Homo sapiens: one gene and its partners. The protein of the gene in region 1 purifies or fractionates together with the protein of each later gene. This does not show direct contact. Each region holds a gene or a part of one and is shown in the gene's direction. Other genes may lie near its edges. The genes, in order: WSB2, DIRAS2, HSF2, ISY1, NUDCD3, CLASRP and SUPT6H.

Evidence for each region.
Region 2: the proteins of WSB2 (region 1) and DIRAS2 purify together in Homo sapiens (affinity purification with western blotting, with the first as the bait; one study listed by BioGRID). This does not show direct contact.
Region 3: the proteins of WSB2 (region 1) and HSF2 purify together in Homo sapiens (affinity purification with a luminescence readout; one large-scale study listed by IntAct). This does not show direct contact.
Region 4: the proteins of WSB2 (region 1) and ISY1 purify together in Homo sapiens (affinity purification with mass spectrometry, with the first as the bait; one large-scale study listed by BioGRID). This does not show direct contact.
Region 5: the proteins of WSB2 (region 1) and NUDCD3 purify together in Homo sapiens (affinity purification with a luminescence readout; one large-scale study listed by IntAct). This does not show direct contact.
Region 6: the proteins of WSB2 (region 1) and CLASRP purify together in Homo sapiens (affinity purification with mass spectrometry; 2 studies listed by BioGRID and IntAct, with this or other methods). This does not show direct contact.
Region 7: the proteins of WSB2 (region 1) and SUPT6H purify together in Homo sapiens (affinity purification with mass spectrometry; one large-scale study listed by BioGRID and IntAct). This does not show direct contact.

Annotation. Positions count from the first base shown.
Region 1 is NC_000012.12:118,051,180-118,054,679, reverse strand, and holds part of WSB2 (WD repeat and SOCS box-containing protein 2), read left to right. Parts: intron 1-2,201; coding exon 2,202-2,370; intron 2,371-3,500. UniProt on the Homo sapiens protein: May be a substrate-recognition component of a SCF-like ECS (Elongin-Cullin-SOCS-box protein) E3 ubiquitin ligase complex which mediates the ubiquitination and subsequent proteasomal degradation of target proteins.
Region 2 is NC_000009.12:90,615,325-90,618,824, reverse strand, and holds part of DIRAS2 (GTP-binding protein Di-Ras2), read left to right. Parts: intron 1-3,500.
Region 3 is NC_000006.12:122,430,652-122,433,619, forward strand, and holds the end of HSF2 (heat shock factor protein 2), read left to right. Parts: intron 1-778; coding exon 779-863; intron 864-1,273; coding exon 1,274-1,569; 3' UTR 1,570-2,468; downstream 2,469-2,968. UniProt on the Homo sapiens protein: DNA-binding protein that specifically binds heat shock promoter elements (HSE) and activates transcription. In higher eukaryotes, HSF is unable to bind to the HSE unless the cells are heat shocked.
Region 4 is NC_000003.12:129,126,915-129,130,063, reverse strand, and holds the end of ISY1 (pre-mRNA-splicing factor ISY1 homolog), read left to right. Parts: 3' UTR 1-2,649; downstream 2,650-3,149. UniProt on the Homo sapiens protein: Component of the spliceosome C complex required for the selective processing of microRNAs during embryonic stem cell differentiation. Required for the biogenesis of all miRNAs from the pri-miR-17-92 primary transcript except miR-92a.
Region 5 is NC_000007.14:44,480,659-44,484,158, reverse strand, and holds part of NUDCD3 (nudC domain-containing protein 3), read left to right. Parts: intron 1-3,500.
Region 6 is NC_000019.10:45,045,545-45,049,044, forward strand, and holds part of CLASRP (CLK4-associating serine/arginine rich protein), read left to right. Parts: intron 1-3,500. UniProt on the Homo sapiens protein: Probably functions as an alternative splicing regulator. May regulate the mRNA splicing of genes such as CLK1. May act by regulating members of the CLK kinase family.
Region 7 is NC_000017.11:28,668,705-28,672,204, forward strand, and holds part of SUPT6H (transcription elongation factor SPT6), read left to right. Parts: exon of another isoform or gene 1-2,527; intron 2,528-3,500.

The DNA of each region.
Region 1 (3,500 bases):
TTGAGACAGAGTTTCACTCTTGTTGCCCAGGCTGGAGTGCAATGACACCATCTCAGCTCACCGCAACCTCTGCCTTCCGCCTCCCGGGTTCAAGCGATTCTCCTGCCTCAGCCCTCTGAGTAGCTGGGATTACAGGCATGCGCCACCAAGCCCGGCTTATTTTGTATTTTTAGTAGAGATGGGGTTTCTCCATGTTGGTCAGGCTGGTCTCGAACTCCCGACCTCAGGTGATCTGCCCGCCTTGGCCTCACAAAGTGCTGGGATTACAGGCATGAGCCAATTTTTTTTTGAGACAGAGTCTCGCTCTGTCACCCAGGCTGGAGTGCAGTGGCACGATCTCGGCTCACTGTAACCTCCGCCTCCTGGGTTCAAGTGCTTCTCCTGCTTCAGCTTCCCGAGTAGCTGGGACTGCAGGTGCCCGCCACCATGTCTGGCTAATTTTTTTTTTTTTTTTTTTTTTTTGGATTTTTAGTAGAGACATGGTTTCACCATGTTTGCCAGGCTGGTCTTAAACTCCTGTCCTCAAGTGATCTGCCTGCCTTGGCCTCCCAAAGTGCTGGGATTACAGATGTGAGCCACTGCACCTGGCAAAAATATTTTATAAATATACACATATGCATCTCTACCATCTGTTTTATTGAATCCAAGATACCATGGATTGTATTATCATCATGTATAACTGAGAAAAAAATACTACCTATTTAACTATGAAAAGTCATTGATTATAAGATACATCCTGATTTCAGCGAGGTCAAAATGTAAGATATATAAAGATGTGTCTTAAAATATATGAAATACGGGTTTTAAAAATGAATATCTATCTGGTAACAGCCAGGGTCAAAGTCTTCCACATTCCACATTCCTTGTGTGGAATGGACACATCAGGAAGTGACCTTATTCAGGATGGAAGCCAGTTTTTATATTAGTAAGTATCACAGTCATAATGGTCAAAAAATTCATTCTGAAGGCCTTTAACTTATAAGCTTCATCAGCCATGAGAATCTTCCATCAGAGTAGAGAACTGAACTAGGAACTGTGGGTCAGTCAATGAAGAAGCTCCAATCTGGTGCCTACTCTTTCACAAGATGGTGTGCTAGGTCCTGGGAGAAACAAAGACAAAATGATCTGGGTGTTGGAACAAGGTGCTTAGACACTGATGACGAGGGCGGGGGGCAGAGAGAAATTGGTTACATAAGAGAGAATGAAATAAACAAGGTGCGACTTATTTCCGTTTTGATAGTGTGAGATCAGGGTACGCTTCTTAGTTGTGAATCTAGGTGGGATTATTACTTTTTTCTTTCTTTCTTGTTACTTTGAGAAGCTAGGGATTCTCATAAGCAAAAGTGGGTCCAGGTGTGAACGTAAATAAGCCCCTTGCATGTCAAGGAGATTTTGTGGCCAGAGTGTGGCCTGCAGGGAGGGGACAAGGGAAGGAGGTTGGACCGATGGGCTGGGGCAGATGGCATGTGGTGAAAGTCCTGGTCTCAGTTGCCTTTATGATGTAGGCAGGCGGGAGCTTTCTAATGTATTTGAAAGAAATGATGTGATGTGTGGGTATTTCAGCTTTAGCAGCATCTCTAGGGGTAGGAAGACTGATCAGGAGACTGTAGCAAAAGATCTGGGTGAGATGAGATGAAGGTTTAACCCCAGACAGAGGACGTGGAAGCGGGAGAGATGGGGAGATGGAATCCATACTTCTGAGTGTGAGGAAGCAGGGCAAGGGCTGAACGTTTTTAGCCTTGATGATGGGGAGGATGCAGGCGAGTGAGAGGGAGCCTTTGAGTTTCACATATTCCTTCTTTGACAGCAGCAGGTTCTTCTGAAGAAACCTGAAATGCATTGGAAGGCCTTGCTATTTTGGCCCCATAATCAGCACCGTCTAGCATATTCCTGGTCTGGCTGTCTCTCCACTTTCCTCCCCTTCAAGTATTCATAGGAAAATGAGGCCTCCATTCACTGGGTTCATGGGCACAAAGGTTACTGTGAGTCATGGTTAACCAGCAGTGAGGAGTGCCAGGATTGAGTAACCGTGGTGGAATGTGGCCTGTGGCTGCTGTTATTGCCCTGGGTCATTTAAGTGACAACTCCCTCTGGGAATGGATAGTGTGGCTCTTTGCCACAGGGAGACAGTGGCTTTCCTGTGTCTGGGTGGTCAGGGAGCAAGGGGGTGTGTGTTTGAAGCATGTTGTCTCCTGCCCCAGAGGAACCGCTGCTGCTGGCCGAACTCAAGCCCGGGCGCCCCCACCAGTTTGATTGGAAGTCCAGCTGTGAAACCTGGAGCGTCGCCTTCTCCCCAGATGGCTCCTGGTTTGCTTGGTCTCAAGGACACTGCATCGTCAAACTGATCCCCTGGCCGTTGGAGGAGCAGTTGTAAGTATTCTCGTACTGGGGCCCCATCCGGCGCATTTCCAAACACTCCTTGTTCTTTTGCCATCTCTGTGCCCAAGAACCAGAGAGAGGGAAGGTGGCTCATGGTTCAGGAATTGATCATGGGGGTTTCCAGAGCCCCAAGTTCTGTATATGTGAAAGTCAATTCTGTCAAGATTATGTTAGCCCCAAGTTGGCTTTTTTTCCCATAGCTTTATTGAGATGTAATTTATATACCACACAGTTTGTCCATTTAAGTATACAATACAGTGGCTTTTAGTCTATCCACAGAGTTGTGCATCCATCACCATCATCAGTCTTACTTTATTTATTTATTTTTTGAGACAGTCTCCCTCTGTCTCCTAGGCTGGAGTGCAATGGCGCAATCTTGGCTCACTACAACCTCTGCCTCCTGGGTTCAAGCGATTCTCCTGCCTCAGCCTCCTGAGTAGCTGGGATTACAGGCACACACCACCACGCCTGGCTAAGTTTTGTATTATTAGTAGAGACGAGGTTTCGCCATGTTGGCCAGGCTGGTCTCAAACTCCTGACCTCAAGTGATTCACCCACCTCGGCCTCCCGAAGTGCTGGGATTACACATTTCTCCCATGAGCCACTGTGCCTGGCACATAATCAATTTTAGAATATCTTTATTTCCTCAGAAAGAAACCCTGTACCCCTTAATTTAGATCCCCCAACCCCCCTGCACTCTCCAGGCAACCACTAATCTACTTTGTCTCTCTAGATTGGCCTATTCTAGACATTTCCTATTAATGGAGTCATACAACACGTAGCCTTTTTTGACTAGCTCCTTTCATTTTACATAATGTTTTCACAGTTCATCCGTATTCTAGCATATACTAGTATTTCATTTCCTTTTATTGCATCATATGGAGATGCCAAATTTTGTTCGTACATTTATCAGTTGATGGACATTGGGTTGTTTTCATGTTTTGGTTATTACAAATAGTGCTGCTATGAACATTTATAGAAAACCTGTGTTTTCTATGTTTAACTATTTGAGGAGGTGTCAGACTGTTTTCCAGAGTGGCTGCACCATTTTACTTTCCCACCAGCAGTGGATTCAGGTTCCAGATTCTCTACATCCAGCCGTTGTTATTGTCTGTCTTTTT
Region 2 (3,500 bases), on another chromosome or scaffold:
TTATTGACTTATTATTGGCTATTTGTATATCTTCTTATTGACTATTAAATATAGTCAATAAATTCATATATCTTCTTTTGAGAAATGTCTTTTTAAGTCTTTTGCCCATTTCTAATTGAGTTGTTTTGTTGTTGTTGAATTGTAGAAGTTCTTTGTATATACCAGAACTAGTCCCTTATCAGATATATGATTTATAACAATACTCACTTATCCTGTGGGTTACTTCTTTCTTGATTGTGTCCTTTAGTTTTGATGAAGTCACATTTACCTAGTTTTAATCTTGTTGCTCATACTTTTGGTGTCACATCTAAGAAAACACTGTTTACTCCAAGGTTATCAAGGTTTATACCTATGTTTTCTTCTAAGAGTTTTATAGTTTTAGCTCTTATATTTAGGTATTTGATCTATTTTGAGTCAGTTTTGTGTATGGTGTGAGGGAGAGGTGCTCCCCTTATTCTTTTACCAGTTTCAGCGTCATTTGTTGAAAAGACTATTCCTTCTGCCTTTTGAATTGAATTTTATTGACACCCTTGTCAAAAAACAATTGACTGTAAATATGAGGGTTTATTTCTGGACTCTGAATTCTATTCTGTTCATGTATCTGTGTATCCTGTGTTAGTACCACAATTTCTTGATGTATTATATCCTTGTCGTGAGTTTGAAATCAGGAAGTATGGGTCTGCCAGCTTTTTCACTTTTAATTTTTCAACATTGTTTTGACTATTCTGGGTCTCTTGAATTTTTACATAAATTTTGGGATCGGTTTGTCAGTTTCTGCAGAGTCGCTAGTGGGATGCTTTTAAGAATTGCATTGAATCTGTAGGTGATTCCTGGAAATACTGCTATCTTAGCAGTAAAAGTCCTCTGATACATGACATGGGGTGCTTTTCCATTTATTCGTGTATTCAATTTCTTTCAACCATGTTTGTAATTTCCAGATATGTTTTGCATCTTTTGTTAAATTTATTCCTAAGTATCTTACTCTTTTTGATGCTATTATAAATTGAGTTATTTTCTTAAATTTCATTTTCAGATTGTTCATTGCAAGTGTATAGAAATACAGTTGGTTCTTTATATGAATGTTGTATTCTGAAATCTTATTGAATGAGTTTAATAGCTAGTTGCCCTCTTGTGAATTTTTCTCCTTGTCCATCATACTGCTCCTTTATGAACCCCTTATCTGCATGGTCCTTCTTGAATGTAGCCAAAAAACTATGTGCTGAGAGCTGTTCAAGTGCTTGATTGCATTGTGTTACTCCCCACATTAGTCTCATAAACAACTTGGCATTATTATATCCATTTCCTAGCTAAAGCAACTCAAATGCAGAAAGTTTAAGTAACTTGCCAAGTTCTCTCAATAGCATATAACAGATTGGGCATGTGGTATTCTCCTTTCATTCTACATGCTCTCTCCCTGGAGAATTTTTGTTTATTATAGTGCTGTTTGTGTATGAATGGTATCCAGATATTTATCACTAGATGAGTCCTCTCTGCTGAACTTTCACACTAAATCCCAATCACCTACCAGATATCTCCCCCATTTGTCCCATAAACCTGACCCAATCACAGCTCCTTTCTCCTTGTTGTTTACTGTCATTTCTCTAAAGCTGCTTCTCTCTTCTGCCTTTTATCTTGATTGATGGTGAGTGCCACCACTCACTTGCTACCCCAAATTCACTCCTGGATGCCAGTTTACACAAGCTGTCTACCATGGCATGAGCATTAGCTCTATTTCCTCCATTTATTCCTTCCTATGAAGTTCTTTCTTCTGACTAACACGCCTTTCATCACTTCACCATCTGGCAAGTTCCAGCCCTCTGTGAAATGCTTCCTGAGGGCTCCAGGCAGAGCTAGATTCCCCACTAGGTTCTTATCCTGCCTTTGTTGATAACTAGATCACAGCATCTGCGAAGTGGGGCGTAATGTATACTTTCCTATGCTTGTCCCCCCTCTAATGCTGTGAGTGCTGTTGGGTAAGCACTGAGTTTGCACAGTATCTAGAAGACATTTTATAAATGCTTGTGAAATAAATGAATGGTTCTGACATGGAAGAAAATAGTTTACAATTTTTTTTTTTTTTTTTTTTTTGTGATGGAGTCTTGCTCTGTCACCCAGGCTGGAGTGCGGTGGCATGATCTCAGCTCACTGCCACCTCCACCTCCCAGGTTCAAGTGATTCTCTACAGTCTGGGTTTTTGTTAGTGAGTTGAAGATCACTATGGAGTTATTGGCCCAGGCCTATCTCATAAATGCACATTGAACTTTATACCCCTTCAACTTTCTGACTCCTGTTCATCTTTCAGATTCATGCTTCCATGCCACCTCCTTAGTGAAATTCTTCCTGATATCTCAAATTTCATGAAATTCCTTCAGACCTCTCTTTTGCAGCACTTGCTATGATATAATTTATTAAATATTTATGAAGTTATCTTTTGGATTGATGTCTGCTTTACTTGATTCTGAGTTTCATGAGAATAGAGATCCTTCCTTAAGTCTGTCCTCTGCACAGTTGTTTTCTGGCCGCTTGTCCACAGCCTGGTTTAGTGGAAGCTCAGTGGATATTTCTCTGGGTAAATGAATAATTGTAGCCATGAATACTTTATTTTATGTTTAGCATTTACTTCCTATGTGTTCGTTGCCAGTTTAATAATGGAGACACCTTAACATAGCTGACCACATATTCAGCAAACTCATAAAGAGTGTATGTGCTGTGAACCAAGAGATCTTTGAGATACATTGGGATGCAGAACTTGTTAAGATATGTTCTCTTCCAGCTAGATGCTTATGCTCTAGTCTGGAGCTACATAACCATAATACAAGGCAAAACGAGTGAGGAAACTCCCTTCTAAGCAAAAAGAGAGCTTCATTCTGAGGATGTAGAAAGAAGCTTAAGATTAGATTCCATTGTCCATTTTCTATGGTTTAAATGTGTTCCCTAAAAGTGCATATGTTAGAAATGTAATCCTCAAATGTGTATGTTCATGGTATTTGGAAGTGGGGCTTTTAGGAATAGATGAGGTCATGAGGAGGCTGGGCAATGCCTGTCATGGCATCAGTGGCTTTATAAGACAAGGAGAGAGACCCTAGCTGACATGCTTGCTCTGTCTTATCATGCCATGCCCTCCAGTATGTTATGAGGCAACAAAAGGCTCTCACCAGATCCAGCTTCTTCATATTGGACTTACCATCCTCCAGAACTGTAAGAAGTAGATTGCTTTTAAAATTATTTCATCTGAGGTATTCTGTTATAGTGACAGAAAACAAACTAAGACACGATTGAGTTTTTTTAAAAAAATTGTGGAAAAATTTATCACAATGCTTCACCCTTGAATTAATCATAATTATCTCATAAGCATTTAATAAACTTCACCAAACTCCTAAGCAGACTCTTCTGCCATCTTTTGGTGTTAATGAACTTCCTAACAGTCTTTTATATTTTCTGTTAGCATTGATGTTTCCTTAGCTTCTTGGAGGGTTTGGGATTCCAAAGTGCATGCAAGA
Region 3 (2,968 bases), on another chromosome or scaffold:
AGTTTACAGTTGGTTACACCATATATATTTAGCCAGCATGTAGATCTGGGACTTGCAGATGTCTGGGACTTACAGGAAAAATTAAGAACCTCTGCACCTCAGAGTTTGAACATGAAAGGAGCACTGAAGAAATTAACAATGGTAAAGATATAATTTCCCTACCACAGTCAGATGTGAGGAGAGAAGAAAGTGGTTCAAAGAAGCAATTTAAATGACAGAAAAGAACTGACAGAGCTACAGAAAGGACAAGAAGAAACACCACCTCAACTTTGAGGCTTCTAAATAGTGATAAAGAGTTTTAAGGATGTCATTATGTCATCCTGAGCTACTCTAAATATGTTCACTTATGCTAAATATTCTGTTTATGAGTGAAATGTATAATACATTTTTTAAATCAAAACTACTTAAAATGAATTTAATTGCTTAGTTAATTATCTCTCAATTAACATTTTGAAACCAGTCATCTTTGATTCATTCTGATCTTTTACTCGTGACAAATTCTATCTGTTCTGCTGCTGAAATCCCCCTTCATTTCATACTTAATATAGAACATCTTAATTCAGGTTCTTTGTTTTATCCCCTCAGTGACAGCAATAGTTCCTTAACCAGTCTTGTTATCTCTACTCAGATCTCTCTCTGTAGCCCATTTTCCCTGATGTTTCCCCATCTCATATATTTCAGATAATATACCAGTATTTACATATTGTATCAATTTTTCATTTTTTTCAGAAACATAAAATATGAAACAAGTACTTATATATATATTTTTTTCTTTTAGTCTGAGAATAAAGGATTAGAAACTACCAAGAACAATGTAGTTCAGCCAGTTTCGGAAGAGGGAAGAAAATCTAAATCCAAACCAGGTAGGTATAAATATAGTATTCAGTCTCTGTAGGTTTTTTTAATCCTATGCAGAAACAAGTGCAAGCCGAGGGTAGTCTTAATTGAATATGCTGGCTTTAGTTCTGTGAATAGTGTGTCGAGGTTCTAGTATATAGAGAAAGTTGAATTGGTGAGGTAACAATTCTTTAAGTTTTTTTTTTTTATCCTATTTAACTTTAGGAAACTAAAGACCCCTCATTTCTTAATTGTTGAATAAGAGCTATTGACTTGCACATTTTAAAATTTATTGACATAGTGCATCATGTCATTTCTTGTTTGGCTATATGAGAGTAGTAATTGCCTATGTGTACATCTCTGTTTTCATTTTTTTCCCCTCAGCTTGAACTCAGTATAAGCTGGTGATAAAAGAGTGTTTTTCTGATCTTTATAGATAAGCAGCTTATCCAGTATACCGCCTTTCCACTTCTTGCATTCCTCGATGGGAACCCTGCTTCTTCTGTTGAACAGGCGAGTACAACAGCATCATCAGAAGTTTTGTCCTCTGTAGATAAACCCATAGAAGTTGATGAGCTTCTGGATAGCAGCCTAGACCCAGAACCAACCCAAAGTAAGCTTGTTCGCCTGGAGCCATTGACTGAAGCTGAAGCTAGTGAAGCTACACTGTTTTATTTATGTGAACTTGCTCCTGCACCTCTGGATAGTGATATGCCACTTTTAGATAGCTAAATCCCCAGGAAGTGGACTTTACATGTATATATTCATCAAAATGATGAACTATTTATTTTAAAGTATCATTTGGTACTTTTTTTGTAAATTGCTTTGTTTTGTTTAATCAGATACTGTGGAATAAAAGCACCTTTTGCTTTTCTCACTAACCACACACTCTTGCAGAGCTTTCAGGTGTTACTCAGCTGCATAGTTACGCAGATGTAATGCACATTATTGGCGTATCTTTAAGTTGGATTCAAATGGCCATTTTTCTCCAATTTTGGTAAATTGGATATCTTTTTTTTACAAATACGACCATTAACCTCAGTTAAATTTTTGTTTGTTTTCCTGTTTGATGCTGTCTATTTGCATTGAGTGTAAGTCATTTGAACTAATGGTATAACTCCTAAAGCTTTCTCTGCTCCAGTTATTTTTATTAAATATTTTTCACTTGGCTTATTTTTAAAACTGGGAACATAAAGTGCCTGTATCTTGTAAAACTTCATTTGTTTCTTTTGGTTCAGAGAAGTTCATTTATGTTCAAAGACGTTTATTCATGTTCAACAGGAAAGACAAAGTGTACGTGAATGCTCGCTGTCTGATAGGGTTCCAGCTCCATATATATAGAAAGATCGGGGGTGGGATGGGATGGAGTGAGCCCCATCCAGTTAGTTGGACTAGTTTTAAATAAAGGTTTTCCGGTTTGTGTTTTTTTGAACCATACTGTTTAGTAAAATAAATACAATGAATGTTGAGTACTAGTGTCTGTTATGTGTCTTCTTTAGAGGTGACACTCACATGAAACAATTTTTTCTTCTCATAGGAAGCAGTAGCTTTAAACTGTCTGTGGTTCATTATTCTCAATATGAATCATACCAAGATATTTGTGCCTCATCTCGAAAATATATTGTATATTGCAACAAGGGAGAAATATAATCTCTAAATTTAATGTATTTTAAAGTTCTTTGTTTAAAAATTATACTGGGTTGCTTTCTATGTTTCTAATAAAAAAGTGAGAGAATTATGCCTCTCATTGTCCCAAATAGTGTAAGAATATTATCACTGGATGTCTGGAGAGAAGATAAGAGAAATAGTCAAATCACCTCTTTCCTTTGAAACAGTTGCCCAAGAGAATTATGGAGACTTAATGCAAGGCCAGGGCACTTTATCATGTGAAGAATTTCACCTTTGGGCAAAGGGCTGAAAGCAGTACAATTAATATTGTATAGGGCTATTTAATGAGTTTCAAGGCAGGTTTTCCTATTGGCCATATTCTGTCAGTGTCTTAGAATTTCTTTTATTATGATGTAAAGATTCAAAGTAAGGGCTAGCACAGAAGAATAGGAAAATTCCCTTAGGAGAGTTTTAGTTAGATCCTAAAATACTTGGCTCTGATGGTGGGATCTTGGTGAATTAA
Region 4 (3,149 bases), on another chromosome or scaffold:
CCTTGGAGTTCTTCCATCCCCCAGTGGTACCTCAGGACCCAGGGCTGCAGACACAGGCTGGTGCTGCAAGGGCTCCTGCCCCATTCTCAGCCTTCCTTCCCTCTCCTTGTCTCATGTTGACCGGAGGGTAGGGGTCTGTCCCTGGTCTTCCTGGTAGGTTTTGTACACATATTTTGCTACTGTGTGGATCCATTTATTTTTATTGTGGAGTGTATACAACAGGTTGCGAACTGGCTGCCTGTGTCTTATTTTGACTTGCACTGCCATTTTGAGGGGAGAAGAATCAATTAGTGGCAAACATTTAAAAATGCAATTTTTTGCAGACCAAAGTATAATTTTAAAAAATGCAAATTTTCTAAAAGACACATCTCTTGAAAAATGAGATGATGTGGCCAGGCGCAGTGGCTCACGCCTGTAACCCCAGCACTTTGGGAGGCCGAGGCGGGCGGGTCACGAGGTCAAGAGATGGAGACCATCCTGGCCAACATGGTGAAACCCCATGTCTACTAAAAATACAAAAAAATTAGCTGGGCGTACTGGCATGCACCTGTAGTCCCAGCTGCTTGGGAGGCTGAGGCAGGAGAATCACTTGAACCCGAGAGGTGGAGGTTGAAGTGAGCCAAGATCGTGCCATTGCACTCCAGCCTGGCGACAGAGTGAGACTCTGTCCCAAAAAAAAAAAAAAAAAAAGATGCACGCAACCCACAAGTCAATGACCAGGTCCCTCTGTGTTGGTTGCTGCTCTGGGCTCTCCGTTAGCCCCCCTCCACCTGCTCCACTCGCTCCTGCCTGGGTGGCAGGAATTTGAGTTTGCTATTCCTGTTTTATAACCTGTTCTGCAGAAACCTATTTTTATTAAAGATTTTTATAAGAAAGGGAAACCTCCATGTCTTCAGCTTGTTCCCTGGGCCAACGGCTCTGAGGTGACAGTGGCATTAGGATGTGACCAGTCACTAAGGGGCACTGCCTTCCTGCAGGGGAGTCCCTGAAGCCCCAGCCCCAAGTGTGGCAAAGACAGGACCAGATCCCAGGAGTCTAGGTGGGAGTGAGCCGACCCACCATGGCGTCCGTGGCCACAGCTGTAGACAGGGCTCCTTGCAGTGGGCTGCACCGTGGCCTGCTGAAAGCACACAGTGGACACGAGCTGAGTCCAGAGCTTCCTCTGAACTGGGGCTTAGCTCTCCAGTGGGGAACCATGGTCAGCGGCTGTAGCCCCTGGGCAAGATGGTGCCTGGCTTCCTGCCCTCTGCAGGGTCATGGGAGTGTCTGGGAACTCAGGGTCAGGGCCAGATGGCTGTTCCTGGGGCCTGGGGCTCCAGCTCAGGCTGTTTGGGAATAGGAGGAACTCTTGGCTTGGAGAAGCCCATCACACAGCGGGAGGCCTGGGATGGTTGGTCTGCGGGGAGCAGCTCAGACTGGGGGTGGCAGAGCCGTGTGTGGCTGTGTGTGGCCAAGTCGGGAGAGTGGCCAGTGCTGGGCCCTCTCTAAGGAGCCCGAGGGCCACAAGGACTGTGGAAAAGGTCTGAGTGAGGGAGTCGGGAGCTAGTGGCTAAGGGACTTGCTTGAGGACGCTCCGTGCGGCCACAAGGAGAGGCCCAGGCAGGACCAGGTCAGGAGGAGGCTGGGGCAGAGGCCCTGGCAGGAGGTGGGTGGGCTTGGTGGGGATGGGAGTAGCCAGGGTGTAGGTGAGGATGGGGAAGGGGCCCCCCTGCCTCCTGGCTTCCCTGAGGGCTGGGCTGGCCAATCCCAGCCCTCAGTCAAGCCCGGAGGCAAATGTGTGCAGGGAGGAGAGGTGTCCAGGTTGAAGCTTTGGGAGCCCTTGGAGGCAGCAAGGCAGACTCGCCTCTGGGACCCAGCACCCAGCTTGGGCCTGCAGGTGGGGACTCAGGAGTGAATATCGTGGGGGCTTTGAGCAAGACCCTCTGGGCCCAGCCTCACCTTCCATACTTTGAAGTCAAGGAGTGGACCTGTGCTGTCTCAGTTTGCTCTGGGGTCTGGGCAGTCCTGTGGTTTGGGCAGAGGCCTCAGAGGGCCCTAGGGACAGACTGACCCAGGTCTGAGCCTCTTGGGAGCGTGCGGATGGCCGGCCTCAGACAGGCCTGGTTGTGGGTTTGTCTTCCAAGGGGCACACGCGCACTCTGGTGCTTCCTGGCATTCAGAAGAGAATGGGGAATCCAGACATCAGGCCTTCCTTCTCCCTGGGAAGGATGGCAGGTGCTTGGAGCCAGGCCTGTCTTGAGAGCCAGGGCTCTGGGTCTTCCTCCTCCAGTGCCCTGTTCCACGCCTTCAGTGCACAAAGCACTCCCCTCCTGGGATCTCTTCAGGGATCCCCGGGATGCAAACTGGCCAGGGATTAGAATTCCACATTTGAGCAAACAGACTGAGAGTGGAGAAGCACCCAGCTGGACATCCTCTAGGTGTTCCTGGCAGAGGCCCTTGCTACTTGTCTGTGCCCAAAGGCCCTAGAGGGTCCTAGATGTGGGACAAGGTCTCAGCAGGGCTCCAGTCCCAGGCCTGGAAACAGCTGGGGGTGGGGGAAGCTGGCTGGGTGGGTGTGGTTATCTTTTCCCAGCTTGTGGCTCCGAGGTGACAGAACCAATCTCAGGAGGCTTTGTTTGGTTAATAAAATCTACTGAATGGTTTATTTTAGCTTTGGCTCTGCCTGTGGTTTCCCGAAAAGCTACTTTTTCATAGTCATGTTTCCATCAACTTCCTTCTTCCCTCACACTGCCTGTCCTCCAGCGTCTAAAACACACCACCTCCCTCCTGTTTTGCTTTAAGACTGGTCACAGCATCCCCACCCAGGCCTCCTGGACCTCCTCCCGCTGCATCCCCAACTGGCTGACCCCATCTGCCCTTGGGCAGTTTATAAACAAGGAAGAAATGAAAACCTTTCTCCTCTTGCCCTGCACTTGCTCTGCAGTGCTGCGCATGCACACCCCATTCCCTGAAACACTGGCAGGATCTGGACCCTAGCTGGGGCTCCTCACCCTGCTCACTGTGCAGCACTGAAAGCAGGAACCCGCCTGGATGGACATCAGGCCTGGCCCAGCACCCAGCTGACTAGCAAGCAGAGGGATCCAGGGGGACGGGCAGCGGCACCCAGCTCCTTCTGGCATCTCACTTGCTGCCCACCTGCTCCACCAGAA
Region 5 (3,500 bases), on another chromosome or scaffold:
ATTCACTCTCTTCCCTCCTTGATAGGATGGGTCACCTGTGTGCCCCCAAATCCCTGCCACCTTGAGTTCTCTTCTGTTTTTCTCACTCCTTTACTCTCTTTCTGACGTGTTTTGGGGGAGATTGTGTGTGTGCGTGCACACTTTTTAATAGAGACCGGATCTTACTCTGTTGGCCAGGCTGGAGTGCAGTGGTGTGATCATAGCGCAATATATGAATTGAACTCTTGGGCTCCAGCAATCCTCTCGCCTCAGCCTCCTGAGTAGCTGGGACCATAGGCATGCACCACCACATCTGGTTAATTTTGTAATTTTTTGTAGAGATGTCTGCCACTATACCTGGCTAAATTTTAAAAATATTTTCTTGCTGTATTGCCTAGGCTGTGGGGGAGTTTTTGTTTTTTTTTCTAGTTAATGAAGCAAAGTGAACAACTTGGAATGGCTTATAAAATATGGAGTAAGAGAAAATAAGTTTTGTAAAGACAGGAGGGGCAAGATTGCAGAGTCTTAAAGTCCAGGCTAACTAATGGAGTTCGAAGAAAACAATTGTTTGATGGCAGAACCAAGCTGATGGAGAAGGGGAGCAGCTCTTGAATATGGAGCTCTGGATGAGAAGGGGTGAAATAAGGATTTAGAGATTGGAAGTGGGGAGTATAGGGTGGAAGGCAGACATCTGATATTTCCTTGCAGATCTTTTTAAAATATTTTTTATAGTGCAGATCTGCTGATAGTGAATTCTTTCAGCTTTTTTGTCTGAAAATGCCTTTATTTCATCTTCCATTTCTGAGGATATTTTTGCTGGATATAGAATTGCAGGTTGACACTTTTTTTTTGTTTTTGTTTTTCTTCAAACATTTTAAAGACTATCATTCCATTGTCTTCTAGCTTGCACTGTCTCTGATGAGAAGTGAGTAGACATTCTTTGTTCCCCTGTGTGTGAAATATCCCCATTCTCTTGTTATATCAGTTCCTTGAAGTTATTATCATTAGTTTGAGCAATTTGATTAAGATTTACTCATGCATGATAGTCCTTGTGTTTATACTATTGGGAGACTTTTGAGCACACACACACATACACACACACACACACACACTTAGGAGGTCTGTTTTCTCTTTGTCCTTCCTTTGGAATATTTTCTGTTGACCTGTCTTCAACTTTACTGTCTTTTCTCCTTTGGTGTCTAATCTGTAGTTAAACTCATCTAGTAACTTCTTAATTTCAGATAGTTTATTTTTTAGCCCTGCAGGTTCCCCTTGATTGTTTTTTATGGCTTCAATTTCTACCTTGGTTTTCCTTTAAATCCTTCAATATACTTACAATAGTTTAAAGTCTTTATCTGCTAATTCCATTATCTCTGTGATTTCTTGGTTTGTTTCTAGGGATTGAGTTTTCTCCTGATTTTGGGTTACATTTTCTTTTTCTTTCAAATGTCTGATAATTTTTTATTGGATGCTAGACATTAATGGATGTTATGCTGTCGAGTCTCTGGGTTTTGATTTCTTCTGTTGAGTGTTGAGTTTTGTTCTTGCAGGCAATTAATTTATTTGCTGATCAGAATGATCTTTTTGAAGCTTGTTTTTTATTTGTATTGATTGATCAATTGATTGTAGAGATGGAGTCTTAATATGTTACCCAGGCTAATCTCGAACTCCTGGTCCCAAATGATCTTCCCACCTTTGCTTACCAAAGTGCTGGGATTATAGGTGTGCACCAATGTGTCTGGCCTTGTTTTTCAGCTTTGTTAAGCTGTATCTAGGGTACTTTTATTTTAAAGCTAGCTTAGTCTTCTAAGACATGCCTTTTTGGGGCTTCTGAGTGCTCCAGCTGTTAGTGAGGTCTTTCCATTCTGACTGGTTGAGGCTTGAACGTCTCCCAGCTCTAGGGATTGTCCATGTCAGTTACCCAGGTTTCCTACTTGTCTCATGGAGTTGCACTTTACACATGTGCAGTTTTGTATTCAGCCAAAGACTCAAGGGGATCCTATGAGGTTTTTTGGAGTTCTTTCTATGCGCAGCCTCCTTACTAGTAGTCTTTCTGTAAAATAATCAGATGTAAGAATGAAGATTTAATATACAAAGTTGTTTGTCATAGTCCACTTAGGCTGCTATAACAAAATAATATAGCCTGGGTGGCTTATAGACTACATAAATTTATTGCTCACAGTTCTGGATACTGGAAGTCTAAGGTCAAGGTACTGGCAGATTCAGTGTCTGGTGAGGGCCCACATTCTGATTCGTAGTTACCTTGCTGTGTCCTCAAATGGTGGAAGAGGTGAGAGAACTCTCTCAAATCTTTTATGAGGGCACTAATTCCAGTCATGAAGGCAGAGCCCTGATCACCTCCCAAAGTACTCATCCCAATATCTTGGGATTAAGATTTACCGTAGGAATTTTGGGACACAAACATTCAGTCTATAGCATTGTTCACTTCAGTTCTATTTATTCCAACATTACTTATATTAGCAAAATTTTGGAAGAATGCTGAATTTCTGTAGTAAGGGAATGGAGAAATACATTTATAAAATGCTTTTAAAGACTACTGACATGGTTATTGTGATGGTCAGTTTCATTTGTCAGTTTGGCTAAGTTACAGTCCTGGTTATTCAGTCAAACACTCATCTTGGCATGGCTGTCAAGGTATTTTGTGGATGTGATGCAAGTTAATAATTGGTTGACTTTAAGTAAGGGTGATTGTCCTAGGTGATCTGAGTGGGCCTGATCTATCAGCTGAAAGCCTGAAGAGCGCAGCAGAGCTCCCCTGAAGTAGAAGAAATTTCTCCGATGGACAGCAGCTGCACTCAGTTTCTGGAGAGTTCCACATTGGCCTGCTATGTGGATTTCAGACTGGCCTAGCCAGCCCCCACAATCATGTAAGCCAATTTCTTGCAGTAACTCTCTTAATAAATACACTTATCCCTTGGTATCTGCAGGGGATTGGTTCCTGGTCCCTCGTGGATACCAAAATTCATGGATGTCTAGGTCTCTTATATAAAACAGTATAATATTTGTGTATAACCTATGCACATTCTCCCATAGACTTTAAATTATGTCTAGATTACTTACAATCCCTAATACAATGTAAATGCTATGTAAATAGTTGTTACACTGTATTATTTGGGGAATAATGACAAGAAGTTTGTACATGTTCAGCACAGACAAAACAATCCATTTTTTTTTTTTTTCAAATTTTTGGATTTTTTTTTTTTTTTTTTTTTTTTTTGATACTGGGTCTTGCTCTGTTGCCCATACTGGAATGCAGTGACATGATCTTGGCTCACTGCAGCCTCTGCCTTCTGAGCTCAAGCGAGCCTCCCACCTCAGCCTCCCAAGTAGCTGGGACTACAGGCGTGCACCACCTTGCCCAGCTGATTTTTGTATTTTTTGTAGAGATAGGGTCTTACCATGTTGCCCAGGCTGGTGTCGAACTGGTGAGCTCAAGTGATCCACTCGCCTCAGCCTCGTAAAGTGCTGGGATTATAGGTGTGAGGCACCATGCCTGGCCA
Region 6 (3,500 bases), on another chromosome or scaffold:
GTAACATTTCCACTCCTCCCCTGCTGACCAGGAAGTAGTCTTATGAACAGCCGTGAGGAAGGCTAAGAGGTGTAGACTTTATTTTGGGTCGCCCTGACCAGATATATTTGGAGTTCTGTTACTGTTGTAGCAAAGGGAATAGATGTTGGTTGCCAATTAATGGTTTGCCACTAACAGTGGAGACAAGAGCATGTCCTTCGATGTTGTTGGAGTGTTGGACACATGGACCACTGAGAGCAGCCTGGCCAGCGTCGCTATCGCTCAGTAAATATTAGCTCTTGTTATTGACATTACTGTTGCTGATAGAACTGGAGTTTGGATCCAGGTGGAGGGATGGTGCAGAGGAAGGAAGGCTGGAGCTGAGACTCCAGGCCCCCTCCCTGTTAGCAGGGAAGCTTGCTGCATTGTATTCCCCCTCAGGACAGTGGTGACGACCAACCCCTCTCACTGGATAATGGGGAAGAGCTCAAAGAACCAATGTCTATGGGTGCTTTGTGGTGCAGGCCTGTACAAGCGGCCTTTGTCCCTGTATGTGAACGTGACCTGCATTCCGATCTGGGCTGCCAAGCTGTGGAGTATGGCTGGGCCGTGGCTGATGGCTGCTTTGAGGAGGGGACTCTCATCTCAGCCTTGGGCCGAGAGCAGAGGCTGTGGAGCGAGTGTCAGTGAAGCTGCGGTAGATTGTGGCAGGCTGAATGAGTATGTCCAGATGCAGTTGGTTTCTGTCTTCCTGATTTGTCGTTGGTGCCTGCTTTCTCTCCCTGTCTTCAGTCCCAAGCAGACTCCGGTTCTGTCATTGCTTCTGTCCTTGTCAACTTTCCTTTTTAATCAGTGGTTTGGATAAAGAAACAGAATCCTCTGTTGATACGGAAATAAGAAGTAAACAGGTCGCAGCTCAGGCGTCGCCTCCTCCAGGAAGCTCCAGACTGACCCCCAAGTCTGGGTCAGGTGTTCCCCCTGTGGGCCCCCATCTCAGCGCTGTCCACTCTAGGTTGTCCTTGTATGGGGACAAGTCTGTGTCCCACACTGGACTGTGAGCCCATGAGGGCAGGGCCAGGGCTATCTCAGTTACTGCCATACCCTAGCACAAGGTCTGCTTAACAGTTGAATGAATGAATGAATGAATGAGTAACTTCATGAACTCCTCTGACACAATCTGATCCTAGAGACAGGATAATCCAGTGGTTAAGAGTTGGTTTTGGGCCGGGCGCGGTAGCTCACGCCTGTAATCCCAACACTTTGGGAGGCTGAGGTGAGCAGATCACCTGAGGTCAGGAGTTTGAGACCAGCCTGACCAACATGGAGAAACGTCATCTCTACTAAAAATACAAAATTAGCTGGGCGTTGTGGCACATGCCTGCAGTTCCAGCTACCTGGGAGGCTGAGGCAGGAGAATCGCTTGAACCCGGGAGGCAGAGATTGTGGTTAGCCTAGATCACGCCATTGCAGCCCAGCCTGGACAACAAGAGCAAAACTCTGTCTCCAAAAAAAAAAGTGGATTTTGGATCTTGAAGAGGTACTTATACACTTATGTTCATTACAGCATTATTAGCAATAGCCAAGAGGTGGACGCAAGCTAAATGTCCATTGAGGGATACATCGAGAAAGAAAATGTGGTCTCTACACATAACGCAATATTATTCAATCTTAAAAAAGAAAGAAATCCTGTCCTATGCTACAATATCGATGAGCCCTGAAGATGTTATGCTAAGTGAAATAAGCCAGTCGCAAAAAGACAGTATTGTATGATCCGCTGATAAGTATCTAAAATAGTTAAACCTTGCTTGAGCCCAGGAGTTCCAGGCTGCAGTGAACTGTGATCACACCACTGTACTCCAGCCTGGGTGACAGAGCAAGACTCCATCTCAAAAAAAAAAAAAAAAAAAACAGAGAGAGAGAGGAAGGGAGGAAGGGAGCTCACTTCGGCAGCACATATACTAAAATTGGAACGATACGGGGATTAGCATGGCCACTGTGCAAGGATGACACAAAAATTCGTGAAACCTTCTGTATTTTTGGTAAAGAAAAAAAAACCTAAAAGAAAAGTCAAACCCTCAGAAAAAGAAAATACAGTGCAGGTTGACAGGGATGGGGGGAGGAGGAAAGGGGAAGTTCAGTTTTGTTTCAGTTTTGTAAGATTTAAAAAGTTCTAAAGCTCTGTTGCACCACAGGGTGGATGTAGTTACTACTACTGTACTGTACACTTAAAAATGTTAAGATGGTAAATGTTTTCTACCACAATAAAAAAATTATTCTTGGCCAGATGTGGTGGCTCACACCTGTAATCCCAGCATTTTGGGTGGCTGAGGCAGGCAGATCACCTGAGGTCAGGAGTTGAAGACCAGCCTGGCCAACGTGGTGAAATCCCATCTCTACTAAAAATACAAAAAATTAGCCAGGCAGGTTGGTGCATGCCTGTACTCGGGAGGCTGAGGCAGGAGAATCGCTTGAACCTGGGAGGCGGAGGTTGCAGTGAGCCGAGATCATGCCATTGCACTCCAGCCTGGGCAACAAGAGTGAAACTCTTGTCTCAAAACAAACAAACAAAAAATTACTCTTAAAAAGCAAATAAATAAAAAGAAGCAGATTTTGTAGTCAGGCCCATCTGGGTTCAAATCCTAGTTCTGCTTATTCCTAATGTCAGGCAGGTGGACCCCATGGCTTTGAGCCTCAGTTTACTCATCTGTAACATGGGCATAAGAATAGTACCTGCTGGGCGTGGTGGCTCATGCCTGTAATCCCAGCACTTTGGGAGGCCGAGGCGGGTGGATCACGAGGTCAGGAGTTCGAGACCAGCCTGGCCAACATGGTGAAATCCCGTCTCTACTAAAAATACAAAAAATTAGCCAGGCATTTTGGTGCATGCCTGTACTCGGGAGGCTGAGGCAGGAGAATCGCTTGAACCTGGGAGGCGGAGGTTGCAGTGAGCCGAGATCATGCCATTGCACTCCAGCCTGGGCAACAAGAGTGAAACTCTTGTCTCAAAACAGACAAACAAAAAATTACTCTTAAAAAGCAAATAAATAAAAAGAAGCAGATTTTGTAGCCAGGCCCATCTGGGTTTGAATCCTAGTTCTGCTTATTCCTAATGTCAGGCAGGTGGACCCCATGGCTTTGAGCCTCAGTTTACTCATCTGTAACATGGGCATAAGAATAGTACCAGCTGGGCGTGGTGGCTCATGCCTGTAATCCCAGCACTTTGGGAGGCCGAGGCAGGCGGATCACGAGGTCAGGAGTTAGCGACCAGCCTGGCCAACATGGTGAAGCCCTGTCTCTACTAAAAATACCAAAATTAGCCAAGCGTGGTGGCGGGCACCTGTAATCCCAGCTACTCGGGAAGCTGAGGCAGGAGAATCCCTTGAACTTGGGAGGCAGAGGTTGCAGTGAGCCGAGATCGCGCCATTGCACTCCAGCCTGGGTGACAGAGCGAGACTCTGTTTCAAAAAAAGAAAAAGAATAGTATGTTTCTTCCATGGTTGGGACATTCGAGTGAGACAGTG
Region 7 (3,500 bases), on another chromosome or scaffold:
GTTGAGGCCTTAAAAGATTGAACTTGTGGGTCTGATAGCCTAATTAGAACAAGCTATGTGTGGGGGCTGCCGTACTCAAATCTGTTTTTAATGGCTCAGTTCAGGGCTGAGGGGGAGCAATGTCAAAATTAAAATTAGAGCTCTAGATTTAATTGGCAGAAGTTTAAGACTTTCACTTTTGGCAGTGCTCAAGCTAAATGACCTTAAGGATAGAGATCTTGGGGTCATGGGGGAGCATCACCCTAACCCCTAGGCTTACTATACCGCATCTCTTTAGGGTCTTTACAGTCACTCCTCAACTTTTTGGACTCAGGACCCCTTTATACTCTTAAAACTTATTTAGGACTTCAAAGACATTTTGTTTATGTGAGTTATATCCTTTGATATTTACCAGATTCGAAATTAAAACTCAGTGAGACATTTAAAAATATTTATTGATTTATTTTAAAGTAGTAAACAATAATACTTTTTATGAATAACAGTAGTTTTTTGGGTTTTTTTGTTTGTTTGTTTGTTTTGAGACGGAGTCTCACTGTCGGTGCAGTAGCACCATCTTGGCTCACTGCAACCTCTGCCTTCCAGGTTCAAGCAATTCTCCTGCTTCAGCCTCCTGAATAGCTGGGACTACAGGCGCCTGCCACCATACCCAGCTAATTTTTCATTTTTAGTGGAGGCAGAGTTTCACCATGTTGGCCAGGCTGGTCTCAAACTGCTGACCTCAGGTGATCGGCCTGCCTCGGCCTGGGGTTACAGGCATGAGCCACAGCACTCGGCCGAATAATAATAGTTTTTAAAACAAAACATTTTAGTAAGAATGGACTGGGTGTGGTGGCTCACTCCTGTAATCCCAGAACTTTGGAAGGTCGAGGCAGGTGGATCACTTGAGCTCAGGAGTTCGAAACCAGCCTGGCTAACATGGTGAAACTTTGTCTTAAAAAATAAATGAATAGCCGGGCGTGGTGGCTCACGCCTGTAGTCCCAGCACTTTGGGAGGCCAAGGCAGGTGGATCACTTGAGGTCAGGAGTTCGAGACCAGCCTGGCCAATATGGCCAAACCCCATCTCTACTAAAAAAAACAAAAATTAGCTAGACGTGGTGGCGAGCGCCTGTAGTCCCACCTACTCGGGAGGCTGAGGCAAGAGAATCGCTTGAACCCAGGAGGCGGAGGTTGCAGCGAGCCAGGATCGTGCCATTGCACTTCATCCTGGGTGAGAGAGTAAGACTCTGTCTCAAAATAAGTAAATTAAGTAAGAATGACATTCTTTGTTTTTTAGTACAATGTTTTAATGTCTGCTCTAACAGAATACAGCTGTGTTCTCATATGTTTTTGCATTCAGTCTGTTGTGATAACCACATGTCCTATAACCTCTGGAAAACTCCACTCTATGCTCCTGAGAGAACAGAGGGACTGGCCCCTGGACCACGCCCTGAAAACTATTGATAGATGTGGTACTGTCAACCATGAAGAGTCAGACAGACCTCAGCACTTACAGATGATAGTTTTGTCACCTTGAACAAATGACTACATCTCTCTGAGTCTGTTTCCTCCTCTGTTGAGAGAGAAGTGTGCTGTAACTCATAGGACAGTGTAGGGATTAATAGAATACTTGTTCTCCTTGATAGGGACATAAAATAGTAGGGTATTTGTTAGTGTCTGGCACTTGGTAGGTGTGTAATAAGCATTATTCCTCAGGGTACTTTTTAAAAAATTGCTTAAAATACCCAAGAGAGACCCATATTATTTTGATTGGGTTTTGTGTGTGTGTTGTGAGTTTATTGTCCAGTTCTCTTCCTGTGCCTGTTCTGTGTGTCTATTGTAATATATAAAACGATTTTATGGTCCTTATTTTCATATTTCTATCTCTAGGAGACATTCAACTCCTTGAAAATGAACAATCCGGCCAGGCGCGGTGGCTCACGCCTGTAAATCCCAGCACTTTGGGAGGCCGAGGCGGGCAGATCACCTGAGGTCAGGAGTTCAAGACCAGCCTGACCAACATGGAGAAACCCCCTCTCTACTAAAAATGCAAAATTAGCCAGCATGGTGGTGCATGCCTGTAATCCCAGCTACTCGGGAGGCTGAGGCAGGAGAATCGCTTGAACCCAGGAGGTGGAGGTTGCGGTGAGCCGAGATCACGCCATTGCACTCCAGCCTGGGCAACAAGAGCGAAACTCCATCTCAAAAAAAAAAAAGAAAGAAAATGAACAATTCTCTTCAAATCCCCAGCTCTTAGCAGAGTATATGTACATTGTAGGCATTCAGTTAGGTTTGTGGAAAGAATGGCATCTGAAACCTCAACCGAAAATTGAACATTCCCCCTCCCTCCTATACCTTCAGTTTTGTTTTCTTGAGTTTAGTTAATCTCAAGTTCATTGGTTATAGTATTGATTGAGCTCCGTAAGGGCAATTTTGAGGAGAATTAGAGCCACAGAACTTAAGGCACCTTCAGGTAGCCATTAGCCACCCTTCTCTTCTCTCCCCTCCCACTGCCATCTTTAACTGGGAAGATGGCAGCAATATGAAAACGTAAGTAGTTTATTTAACAGACACTTAACAGTTGCTAATTTGTTAGCAGCTAATTTGTTGCTAATGTGTTGCAGCACACCTGAAGGGATATAGCTTTTCTGGTGCAGAATCACAGAGTGCCTTGTAATGCCTCTTGTATTGCCATTTATGTTTTCATGATTTTTATTAGTCTCTCTATTGGATATGTTCTTTATCTTCCAGAAGCTTGTAGTCTAAGTGAGAGAAAGGTACATGGGATATATCCCATAGACCATTTTACTGGATGGGGTGAGGAGTGATGCTGAGTGTGTCAGCAGCCAGCTTTAGGGTTCCACAATGGAATCTTGTTGTGATGATGTGTGCTGTTTTTTAAGTCCTACTCAAGGCCCATCAAGCTCCATGTTACGGTTCTTGAAGATCCCTACTGTCGTTTCCAGGCTTTGGATGAGTCTGAAAGCAGGGAAGTAGAAGATAAAGTTGGGGTTGGTTGGTACAGAATTACAGAATGCTAAGGAAAATTAGGCTCAGGATTCAAATTCAAACTCAGGTTAACCCATCTTGAAACAATAGGTTCTTTCCCCTATGTCATGTAATATTCTCAACTATCCTGTAAGGTAGGTAGCGCTATTACCATTTTCCAGGTTAAGAAAGTGATATTCAGGCATGTCCAATAATTTGCTTAAGTTTATGTTTAGCCCGTAGGGTATGAAACCAGGATTTGATTTCTACTCTTGAGCCCAGCAGTCTTTCCATTTAACCATGTTGCATTTATTTTGTAGGACATGGAAGCCTTTCAAGATTTTTTGCCTGCAAGGGGAGTAAATGATAAAACTAGGCCCTTTTTGGACCCAAATGCTCCCAACCAGTACTCACACAAATTGGCTCAAGTTCATGAAGTATTTGTGTGTTTAATCTATTGAAAAGAGATTTTGCTTTTGACTTTGCTAATAAGTATGAATAGTGTATGTAAACATATGAAAGCACCTTTTATAAA